Regions from separate parts of the Homo sapiens genome. Here region 1 is linked to region 2. The links come from fine-mapping of genetic effects on gene expression. A gene starts in region 2. The other region holds a variant in brackets. All regions are shown on one strand. Distances are between the middles of the regions. Region 1 overlaps HHAT (hedgehog acyltransferase). Region 2 holds the start of HHAT (hedgehog acyltransferase).

Region 1 (5,375 bases), 54 kb before region 2:
GGAAATCATGTATGTAGTTGAATTGCTTCCATTTAGAGATGACTACACCAGAGTCTGGGACATGCCCACAAACACACAGCCAGGCAGCACAGCAGAGAACTCAAAGCTTTAACCTGGCTCCTGATCCCTGATCCACAGCTTATTTCCCCATCTAGAGATTTCCAAATTAGCCAAGAGTCAATTAACTAAACAAATGTAAATAAGTTCAAAGGTCATGTGATGAGGCCATGCTAGTAAAATACCACTTTTATAACAGGGATACAGCTAAAAGACACAAAAGCCAAGACACTTTTTTAATACAAACTCAAAAAGAAAAAAAAAAAAAAAGAAAAACATATGAGCTTTTTAAATACAACATTTTTGAACACTTAGAATTACATTTAGAATTCATGACCCCAAGCTTACCTATGCCTCGAAACTTCTCCAAGTTTAATTTTTTAGGGTGGAAAAAAGGATATAATACAACAAAACATATAAGACTTTCTGTTCCACCAGAAAGTCCAGGACTCCTGAAAACTCTGCTGGTAAAATCCCATCAACAAAAATTACACATGGCCTTTCACCTCTAATTATCACAGAAAACATTCATTTAAAGGAAATAAAAATGTCTCTCTCATGTCTATTCTTCCCTATTTAAAAAAGTTACCTAAGGGAAATGACCAAACAGAAAAGCTGGGCCAATGAATAGGTCAAGATGATGTTTAATGATTTGGGTAAGAAAAATATTGACTCACTGCTTCTTGAAGCAAAAGCTTTATAGACTCTGAGCTCAGTCACACATTTCAAGGCAAACATGAAAGCCTGAAATCAGGAACAACATCATGATCTGTCCCTTCCCCCATTTTCTTTCTTGCCTCCATGGTTATTAGTCAATTAGGAACCTCTTCTTTGGCACTCTAAGGGGGTCAGATATAAACTGGAGCTAAATCTCAGCCAGGCAGAACTAGGCAGGCTTCTCCATGGAAGCAGGGAGGCTGTACTCCAAGGAGAAGTCACCCACATCCAACCTCAAAGTGGACACAAGCCACCTATGCATCTTGCTAAAATGCAGATTCTGATGCAGTCAATCAAGGGTGGGGCCTGGGATTCTATATTTCTAACAAGCTTCCAGGTGATGTGATACTACCAGCCTGGGGACCAATCTACATGACTGATTATGCCTTCCTACAGCTGAATGTTCATAAACTCACAGAATCCTTAACAGCTCAGCCCGCCCCGTACCATTCCCAGGCAGGGAGGGCACATACTCCGAAGCTGCTACCTAACACTCACCAACAGAGCAGTCATCCTCCCGTTCACCGTTCAAAGCTCTGGGCACCCAGACTTCGGAATTCACTGAACAAGTTAACAAATGTGGTTGTTTATTCTGAGGCTTACATTCTGCTACCAGGTAATACTAAGGACTCTGAGAGACATGATTGTTCTGGGTTTCTTAAATAGTAACTCTAACGTCCTAGCAAAACACTTTTTCCTTTCTTAACAAAGGAAAGGGTCTGGGCCTAGTGTTTGTAACTGCCTCTTTTCCTACCCACAGCAGAGTTCTGCTCTAGGCACCATGAGGAGCTCAAAGTCTAAATAGGAAGACCCCCAGCACCAAGACCACCACACCCCACAATGAAGACACACCAAAAACCCACTGCAGAATGAGAGGGGTAACAGTGCTGCAACTCAACTTCATATGTCAGTGAAACTGACAGACCTGTCCTTTCTTCCCAGTCACTGATGAACACTCGAGTATGTGTTTTCTAATTACAGCCTCATAACAATCTTTAAAGTAGCTCAATTTGTTTAACAGACCTTATCTTTTAGAGAGTTTTCAGTTCACAGAAGAATTAAGCACAATGTACAGAGAATTCCCATAGACCCCTTAACCCCTCTCCATCAGCATCTCCCACCACAGTAATATATTTGTTCCAACTGGTGAACCTACATTGATACCCCAAAGTCCATGGTTTATATTCGGGTTCACTCT[T/C]GATGTTGCATATTCTATGGGTTTGGACAGATGTATAAAAACACATATCCACCATTATCATATCATATGAAATAGTTTCACTGCCCTAAAAATCCTCTGTACTCTACCTCTTCATCCCTCCCACCCTGGCCCTGCTCCCCTCAATCCCTGGCAAACAATGATCTTTTTACTGTCTCCATATTTTACTTTTTCCAGGATGTCATGTAGCTGAAATAAATAAGTTTTGGGTTTTTTTCTTTTTATTTCGTCAGTGATTTGAAGCTCTTTTTTGAGACAGTCTCGCTCTGCTGCCCAGGCCGGAGTGCAATAGCACAACCTCGGCTCACTGCAATCTCTGCCTCCCAGGCTCAAGTGATTCTCGTGCCTCAGCCTCCCAAGTAGCTGGGACTACAGGTGCATACCACCACACCTGGCTAATTTTTGTAGTTTTAGTAGATACGGGGTTTCACCACATTGTCCAGGCTGGTCTCGAACTCCTGACCTCAAGAGATCCACCAGCCTCAGCCTCCCAAAGTGCTGGGATTACAGGCATAAGCCACCGTGCCCGGCCTGAAGCTCACTTTTTCTTTTTTCTTTTTTGAGTAGTTCTGTCTAACTCCGTGTTACAAATGAGTTAACTGGAGGTCAGAGAAAGCAGATTATTTATCCAAACCTAGTAAGGGGCAGAGCCGGGTTTCAAACCTAGGCCTGTCTGAAGCCAAGGAGGAAACCCTTTTCTGAGATGTTTCTACTCATGCTTGTCCCTGTACCTGGACTTTCTGCCCTTCCCACCCCTTTGCCCCACAACACTATTTGACTAGGCAATCTCCAACCTAGAGTGCACCTCATTTATGCCCCGTAACCACAAAGCCAGCCCAGTGACATGCACAAAATACTCACTAAATGGTACAATTCAAATGTCAGCTCCAGAGTGAAGCTTTCCCATACCTACCTCCCCAGGTGGACCTCATTGCACTCCCTTCTCCGTCATCCACATCTCAATTCTAGAACTTTTATTATGGCATATTTATTATATCACTTTTATTCCTGTATTTTCTCTCTGGAGGGAAAAATGGATCTCTCTGAGAGCAAGAACCTTGACTTAAATCTGTCTCCTAGATGCCCAACATTCAGCAAGCCTTTAAAATGGCGAGGAGCAGGAACGGAGCCAAAAAATCAGCCTATCTAGTACTTGTCACATTTCTCCCTCTGTTTAAACTTGGAAAAGTCACTTAACTATCTGGGATTGAATTTCCTTGTGTGTAAAATGAAGGGCTCCACTAGCACAATGTCTAAGATTCCTTTCAGAAAATGGGAAAGACAATTATTTTCTAGGCTAAAGGAAAGAAATACTAAGAAAGTGCTTGTCACCCACCCGTGGAGAAGGGGTCGTCCCCTCTTCTCACACCCCTATGTCACTAGGGAAGAAAGTTACAAGAAAAAATTCCTGGCAAATGAGGACTTGCCCTAGCAACTCACCACTGAGTAAATCTTTCCTCCTTCTAGCCTTGAATTCTCATCGCCCTTAAACCTTGCCAGATCACAACTCACTCTCAGCCTCTTAGCTGGAGTACTGTGTTGTTATCACAAGAGATGGCTAAAATTCTGGTTCTGTGCTTTCTCTTGCATTCCCCAGAAAACTGAGGACTATTCTCCAGCTGAAAACAACACAAACGCATAGCTAATAAGGCCTGGTCAATAGACTAAAATGTAAAGTACCAAGCCAAGTGCCAAGGCACTCACCGAGACGCCCTAAGTGAATGAGAGAAATTCACCCTGTAGCCACATCAGTTAGCTCAGTCCACCAGTTCTTCAACCCAGATCCCTGGTCCCACTGTTTTTGGAGTCTTTTTGGATTTTTTTTGTAATCAGTCCATGACCTGCTGAATAGTTCCACTGTTTATCTCCTAGTGAGATGGGTCAGGAGCACTGTTTTATTATGTCTATGGATGGTATTTGCAGATAGTTTGCTATCAGCTCAGAAGTTTACATCTACAAATGAAGCAGAGTCTAAGAAAGGCCATGGGTAAGCCTTAAAAATGATTTGAGGCCGGGTGCAGTAGCTCATGCCTGTAATCCCAGCACTTTGGAAAGCTAAGGTGGGTGGATAGCTTGAGGCCAGGAGCTCGAGACCAGCCTGGCCAACATGGTGAAACCCCATCTCTACTAAAAATACAAATATTAGCTGGGAGTGCTGGCGCATACTTACAATCTCAGCTACTCGGGAGGCTGAGACATGAAAATCACTTGAACCTGGGAGGTGGAGGTTGCAGTGAACTGAGATCATGTCACTGCACTCCAACCTAGGTAACAGAGCAAGACTCTGTCTCAGAAAAATAAAAGTAAAAAATTTTTTTAAATGACCCACTGCATAATCATTCAAATCTTTCAATAAATTTTATTAAGCATCTAGTATATGCTGCTTCATATAGTCAATCACAGCATATCAATTAGGCTTTGTTATCCAGGAAAGTCTTGGAGTTACTGCAAAATCGTTTTCCTCCCCGTACTATATGCTAGACCTACTTCAATTCCGCAGACTGTGCTCTACTCACTTCTACCCATTTAGCCTTATTCCTTCCATTCCATGCTCCCTACACAGCACCAAAGTAATATTTTTAAGAGCATATTTGATCATGTTATTTCCCCCACTTAATATTCTTCATGTGCTCCCCTTAGCATTCCAGAGAAACTTCTCAGTGAGACTCATGCAGTTCTTCATAAAATGGCCCTGTCCCCCTGTCCACCCTTCCATCGTCGTACCTAACCTTCACTGCCCCCACCATCCCACATTACAACTGCATTGACCCCTCTGACCCCACAGCACCACATTCATGCAGCTGGGCCTCCCACACTTTGCTCCCTCTATTTGGAAAAACCATCACTGAAGCATCATGTGAATGAGGACATATCTTTCAGGTCTCAGCTCAGGCAAGCCTTCTCCCAGGAAGCCTTTAGTAGTCCATCCATTCAGCCTGGACTCGGTGTCCCTTGCCTATGCTCCCACAATATGCCACTACGGTTACCTGTAACAAAGCAACTTATCCCATTGTGCTTTTTAAAATTTTATTTTATTTTATTTATTTTTTGCGACAGAGTCTTGCTCTGTCGCCCAGGCTGGAGTGCAGTGGCATGATCTCGGCTCACTGCAACCTCCGCCTCCTGAGTTCAAGTGATTCTCCTGCTTCAGCTCCCAAGAAGTTGGAATTACAGGTGCACACTGCCATGCCCAACTAATTTTTGTATTTTTAGTAGAGACAGGGTTTCACCACGTTGGCCAGGCTAATCTTGAACTCCTGACTGCAAGTGATCCACCCTCCTCAGCCTCCCAAAGTGCTGGGATTATAGGCGTGAGCCACCAGACCCAGTCCCCACTGTGCTTTAATTACAGGTTACTGAGCTGTCTCTCCACTAGACTGTGAGC
Region 2 (5,375 bases):
TGGACATAAGCAAACACACTTTGGGTGTCAATGTCTACCAACACACCCCCCCAGATGGGACTGCCTAGTTGCAGAAAAACAAGCTCAGGGGTCCCACTGATTCTACTCTATGGTGAGTTGTATTCATATTACAATGTAATAATAATAGAAATAAAGTCCACAATAAATGTAATGCAGGTGGGGCATGGTGATTCACACCTGTAATCCCAGCACTTTGGGAGGCCAAGGAGAGGATGGCTTGAGCTCAGGAGTTCGAGCTCAGGAATTTGAGACCAGCCTGGTTGACATGGTGAAATCCTGTCTCTACTAAAAATACAAAAATTAGCCAGATGTGGTGTCGCATGCCTGTAAGCTACTCCGGAGGCTGAGGCACGAGAATTGCTTGATCCCCAGAGGTGGAGGTTGCAGTGAGCCAGTATCGTGCCACTGCACTCCAGCCTGGGTGACCCAGCGAGACTCTTGTCTCAAAACAAATAAATAAAATAAATGTAACGTGCTTGAATTATCCCAACACCATCCCCCTTCCCCCAGTCCATGAAAAACTTATTGTCCATGAAACCGGTCCTTGGTGCCAAAAAGGTTGGGGACCACTGCTTTAGGGAACATTCCCCCTGGGCCAGGTCCTAAGCTGGAAGCAGGGGGTGCAGGTAAGGCCCATGCTCGCAAGTTCCTGATGCTACCTACAGAGCTCCCACCAACATCTGGCCACCCACAAAAACGGCTGCTCCCTCCAAAGAATTGACTTTCACCCTAAGTTCATCCATCTAACCTACTTCCAAGGAGGGGGCAAAGTAAACAGTAGATAAAGCACAGGCGTTGATCCAAAAGAGGAGTCCAAAACCCGGCCCTGACATGTACTAGTTTGTGGCTTTGGCTCCCCTCCAAGGCTTTCTCTATCCTACTGTGAAAAGAGATAACAACACTTATCTTTCCCAGTTACTGTAAGGTTTAGAAATAATGTATCTAAAGCACCTAATAAGCACACAGTCTCCTTAAATTAACATTAATTGAATCTCTCAGGTCAGAGCTGTCCTTATCAAACAATCACAATTAGGGACTGACTGGCAACGAGAAAGGAGGGAGAAAAATCACAGGGAAAATGGAACATGAGGAATGGAAGGGGAAAAAAATCATTCCTCAAAGTCTCCTTCAATGAACTACCGCCTCTTCAATGAAGCCTTCCCTCTCCTCTCCTTGCATTCCCATAGCACTTAATCACATTGAAATAGGTCCTTAGCTCTGAGAATGAATGAGATGCCAGGCACGGTGGCTCACGCCTGTAATCCCAGCACTTTGGGAGGTCGAGGTGGGCAGATCACCCGAGGTCAGGAATTCGAGACCAGCCTGGCCAACACGGTGAGACCCTCGTCTCTACTAAAAATACAAAATTAGGTGGGCGTGGTGGCGCATGCCTGTAATCCCAGCTACTCAGGAGGCAAGGCTGGAGAATCGCTTGAAACCGGGATGCTGAGGTTGCAGTGAGCTGAGATTGTGCCATTGCACTCCAGCCTGGGCGACCAGAGCGAAACTCCGCCTCAAAAACACAAACAACAACAAAAACAGAAAGAGAAGCAATGTCTCACTCCCACGTAATGCAAACCTCTGAGGATGCCAAATGCCCTAGCCCTACAACCCTGATCCAAGAGCAATGTACACAGGTAGCAGCACATTTCTTAACACCAATGCTACCCGTAAAGTACCTCTGGTGAGGATTAGCGGGAGGGTTTTTCCGCATAAAGACCTGCCACCTGAAGGTTAGACTCAGAACAGAGGAAGAAAACTGAGTCCTGAAGATAGAACGCAAAGGAAGTCTCTAACTTTAGAGTCCCTGGAGTCACAGCAGGCAGGCAGGCGCACCGCCGATACTGCCAAGAGGACCAGAGTTCGCAACTCCCCGCAGCAGTTCCGGAAGCTGGGGACGAAGCCAAGGAGAGAGGACGTGGGCAGGGCCGTGCGCGGACTTGTCCCGGCGCCTAGATCCCCGCCTTTGCCCGGGCGCACTGCGCGCGCGGCCCCCGCCGCTTTTGTCTTCTTCGCCCGACCGGGAACTTCCTCTGTCCCGCCCTCGGGCGCGCACACGGGAACTTGGGTAGGAAACGGAAAGCGTTTTGTGCATTTTTTTTTTAACAGAGTAAACTGACGCAGAAAATTCAGCATCTAACCTCCCCAGGACCCCCTATGGTCACCAGTTACCAACCTCCGGGCTGTCCCGGGCGGCGGCGACGGCAACGTTCACGCGCGCCGCGAGTTCCCAACACCCCTCTTTCGGCACTTCCGAGTCCCAGCGACATCGGCGGCGGCTGCGGGCTTCCCCGGGACGCCACCCTCTTTCCCCCGGAGCTGCCCTTTGGAGGAGCAGCGCAGCGCGCGTCCTCCGAGCACGCCCCTGCCGCCGTGCCCGCGCGCCCTCCGCGCCCGGACTCGGGAACCCGCGGCGCTCTCCGGGCGATGGCGAGCAGGCCGTGCTGCTGCAGGGGGCGGGCCAGAGCGCGGCCTGCGTTTCTGAACCGCGTTTGCCCCGCCGGCGGCCCGGGGCCCCTAGCCCCGCTCACCCCTCGGCTGTTGGTTCCCACTGACCCTGGCGTGCATATCTCTCCCCCACCCGTGTGTTCATTGCAGGTCTGGGGCTGCCTGCAAGTTAATTGCAGAGTGGAAGTCACCTGAAACTCGAGGTGGGCCGTCATTCCAACACCAGTGGTCCCCACCTACGTTTTGTAGGCGAAAGGAGGTAGTTCGGTGCGGTGGAAAGAGGGTGGGCTTTGCAGCCCTGGCAGCTTCGAGGGCTTACTGTGTGAACTTAGCCCCTGTGAGCCTCCCTGTACACCTCTGTAAAACAGAAATAGACTTCCCTGCTTTTCTTTGTAAATTAGAGTGAAGATCAAATAGAATAAACTTTATGAATTGTAAAGCAACTTACAGAGATCACTACTGCAAAATGGGTACGAAGATTTTGATTGCGTTGTGAAAAGAGTGGAAGATCTGAAGATGCTCCAACGGGGTATAATTGGGACGATGTTGCTGCTCGGAGGCCTCCAAGCCTGAGCCAAGAGACAGGCTTGCCAGAGTTCTCCAGACTTATCTCAGCAGAATCACGTGGCTCTCATTAAAACCTCGGGCTTCTGGATCCCTCCCCAAACCAAAAGCATCAGACTGTCCATGGCAGGGGCGTCTCAGGTGGTTCTATGATAAGGTGAAGGTGGATAACTCTGCCCTAGGCAGCAGGGAAACTCGGAAGCTGTGCTCTCAGAAATTTCATCTAGCAGTCATTGTAATGGTCGAGAGGATTATTTTAATGATTTTAGAATTCTCCAGGAAACCAGAGTATGAACTCTCCAAGAGCTGGAGCTATCTTTTCTTTCTGCTTCCCCCCAACCCACTCACCCCAAAACCTGGTACTGGATGGTGTTCAGTAAGCAGGTGTTAGTAAACTAGCCCCAAATAGGAGTGCCAGATTTAGCAAATAAAAATACAGCATACTCAATTAAAATTGAATTTCAGGCTGGGCGCGGTGGCCCACGCCTGTAATCTCAGCACTTTAGGAGCGGTAGCAGGAGGATCACTTGAGGCCAGGAGTTTGAGACCAGCCTGGCCAACATGGTGAGACCCCGTCTCTACTAAAAATACAAAAATTAGCCGGGTGTGGTGGCCTGCACCTGTAATCCCAGCCACTTGGGAGGCTGAGGCACGAGAATCGCTTGAACCCGGGCGGCAGAGGTTGCAGTGAGCTCAGATCGCACCACTGCACTCCAACCTGGGTGACTGAGCCGGACTCTGTCTCAAAAAAATAAGTAAATAATTTCAGGTGAACAATATGTAACTTTTTAGTATCACTATGACCCATGCAATATTTGGGATATACTTATTTTTTTTAAGTACTTACAGGAAGCTTGTAATCCCAGCACTTTGGGAGGTCGAGGTGAGTAGATAACTTGAATCCAGGAGTTCGAGACCAGCCTGGCCAACATGATGAAACTCCATCTCTACCAAAAAAAAAAAAAAAAAATGGTATATCTGAAATTCAAATTTACATCCTGGGTATCTGAAAATCAAACTTAACTGGGTATTTTATCTGTCAACTCTAGATCCAAGGGTTTGGCAGAGGGAGTGGCAGAATAAGAACTCAACTCAGGTAGTGTCAAACTCAGGGACAGGGATGTGATAACAGCTCCTATATTATTTCTAAAAGATGCTGTTGTTAATATAGGTTCAGTGTGATTTACACTTAACCCCTGTCTACATATGCACTTTAAATTCACCGGCGAACACAAAGGAGATAAAGGCAGATTTAAACACAGGCAATCAGAAACATCAAATAAAAATAGCCAAAATTTATGTGTGTGTGTATATATATATATATATATATATATATATATATGTATGTATTAGAGACAGTCTCACTGTGTCACCCAGGCTAAGCACAGTGGCATGATCTCAGCTCACTGCAGATTCAAGCAATTCTTGTGCCTTAGCCACCTGAGTGGCTGGGATTACAGGCAAGCACCAGCCACCACACCTGGCTATTTAGTAGAGACAGGGTTTTGCCTTGTTGGCCAGGCTGGTCTCGAACTCCTGGCCTCAAGTGATGCACCTGCCTCAGCCTCCCAAAGTGCTGGGATTACAGGTGTGAGCCACCATGCTTGGCCATAATAGCCAAAATTTAAAGATAAGCAATAGACTGGGATATTTGCAAGAAATTTGCAAAGTGTTAATTTTAAAATTATATATAGAGTTAATACAATCAATAAGAAAACATTAGAAATCAATTATAGATGAGCAAGACACATTTATAGACAACCCACTAGAAAAAGGAGGAGGGAAATAAAAGTAGGAAACAAAAATATATTGCAAAAAGCTCAATGAAATGCATAGTAAAACAAGAACATGGTGGCTCACGCCTGTAATCCCAGCACTTTGGGAGGCCAAGGTGGGTGGATCACGAAGTCAGGAGATCAAGACCATCCTGGCTAACGTGGTGAAACCCCGTCTCTACTAAAAATACAAAAACAAAATTAGCCAGGCATCGTGGCGGGTGTCTGTAGTCCCAGCTACTCGGGAGGCTGAGGCAGGAGAATGGCGTGAACCCGGGAGGCAGAGGTTGCAGTGAGCCGAGATCGTGCCACTGCACTCCAGCCTGGGTGACTGAGCAAGACCCCGTCTCAAAAAAAAAAAAAAAAAAAAAAAAAACAAGAACACACAATTTTCACACATTAAGTTGGCAAAAAATTAATAAATAACATTACAGCCTGGCATGGGTGCTATGTGATAGCACTCACACACAATGTTTAGTTGGGTAAGCAATTTGGCAGTATGAAAACTTAAAATTTATCAAAATCTAAGGGAGGTGGGGCAAGATGCCAAATAGAAGCTTCCACCAA

What was found. PIP is the estimated chance that this variant, and not a neighbour inherited with it, causes the effect. A credible set is the group of variants that fine-mapping cannot tell apart.
Region 1: its variant is the best candidate, but not a certain one, in a credible set for the expression of HHAT in caudate (GTEx, PIP 0.73).

Annotation. Positions count from the first base shown.
Region 1 is chr1:210,380,205-210,385,579 of GRCh38, reverse strand. The region is part of intron 3 of HHAT (hedgehog acyltransferase); the gene reads right to left. Among named protein-coding and RNA genes, the nearest start is that of HHAT, 54 kb to the right of the region's middle. The variant T/C (reference allele first, on the strand shown) is at 1,973.
Region 2 is chr1:210,325,927-210,331,301 of GRCh38, reverse strand. It overlaps HHAT (hedgehog acyltransferase), which reads right to left and starts at 2,400. Exons shown (of 12, transcript NM_018194.6): 1 at 2,198-2,400. RefSeq lists enhancers at 542-711, 1,824-2,183, 3,058-3,227 and a silencer at 2,344-2,593.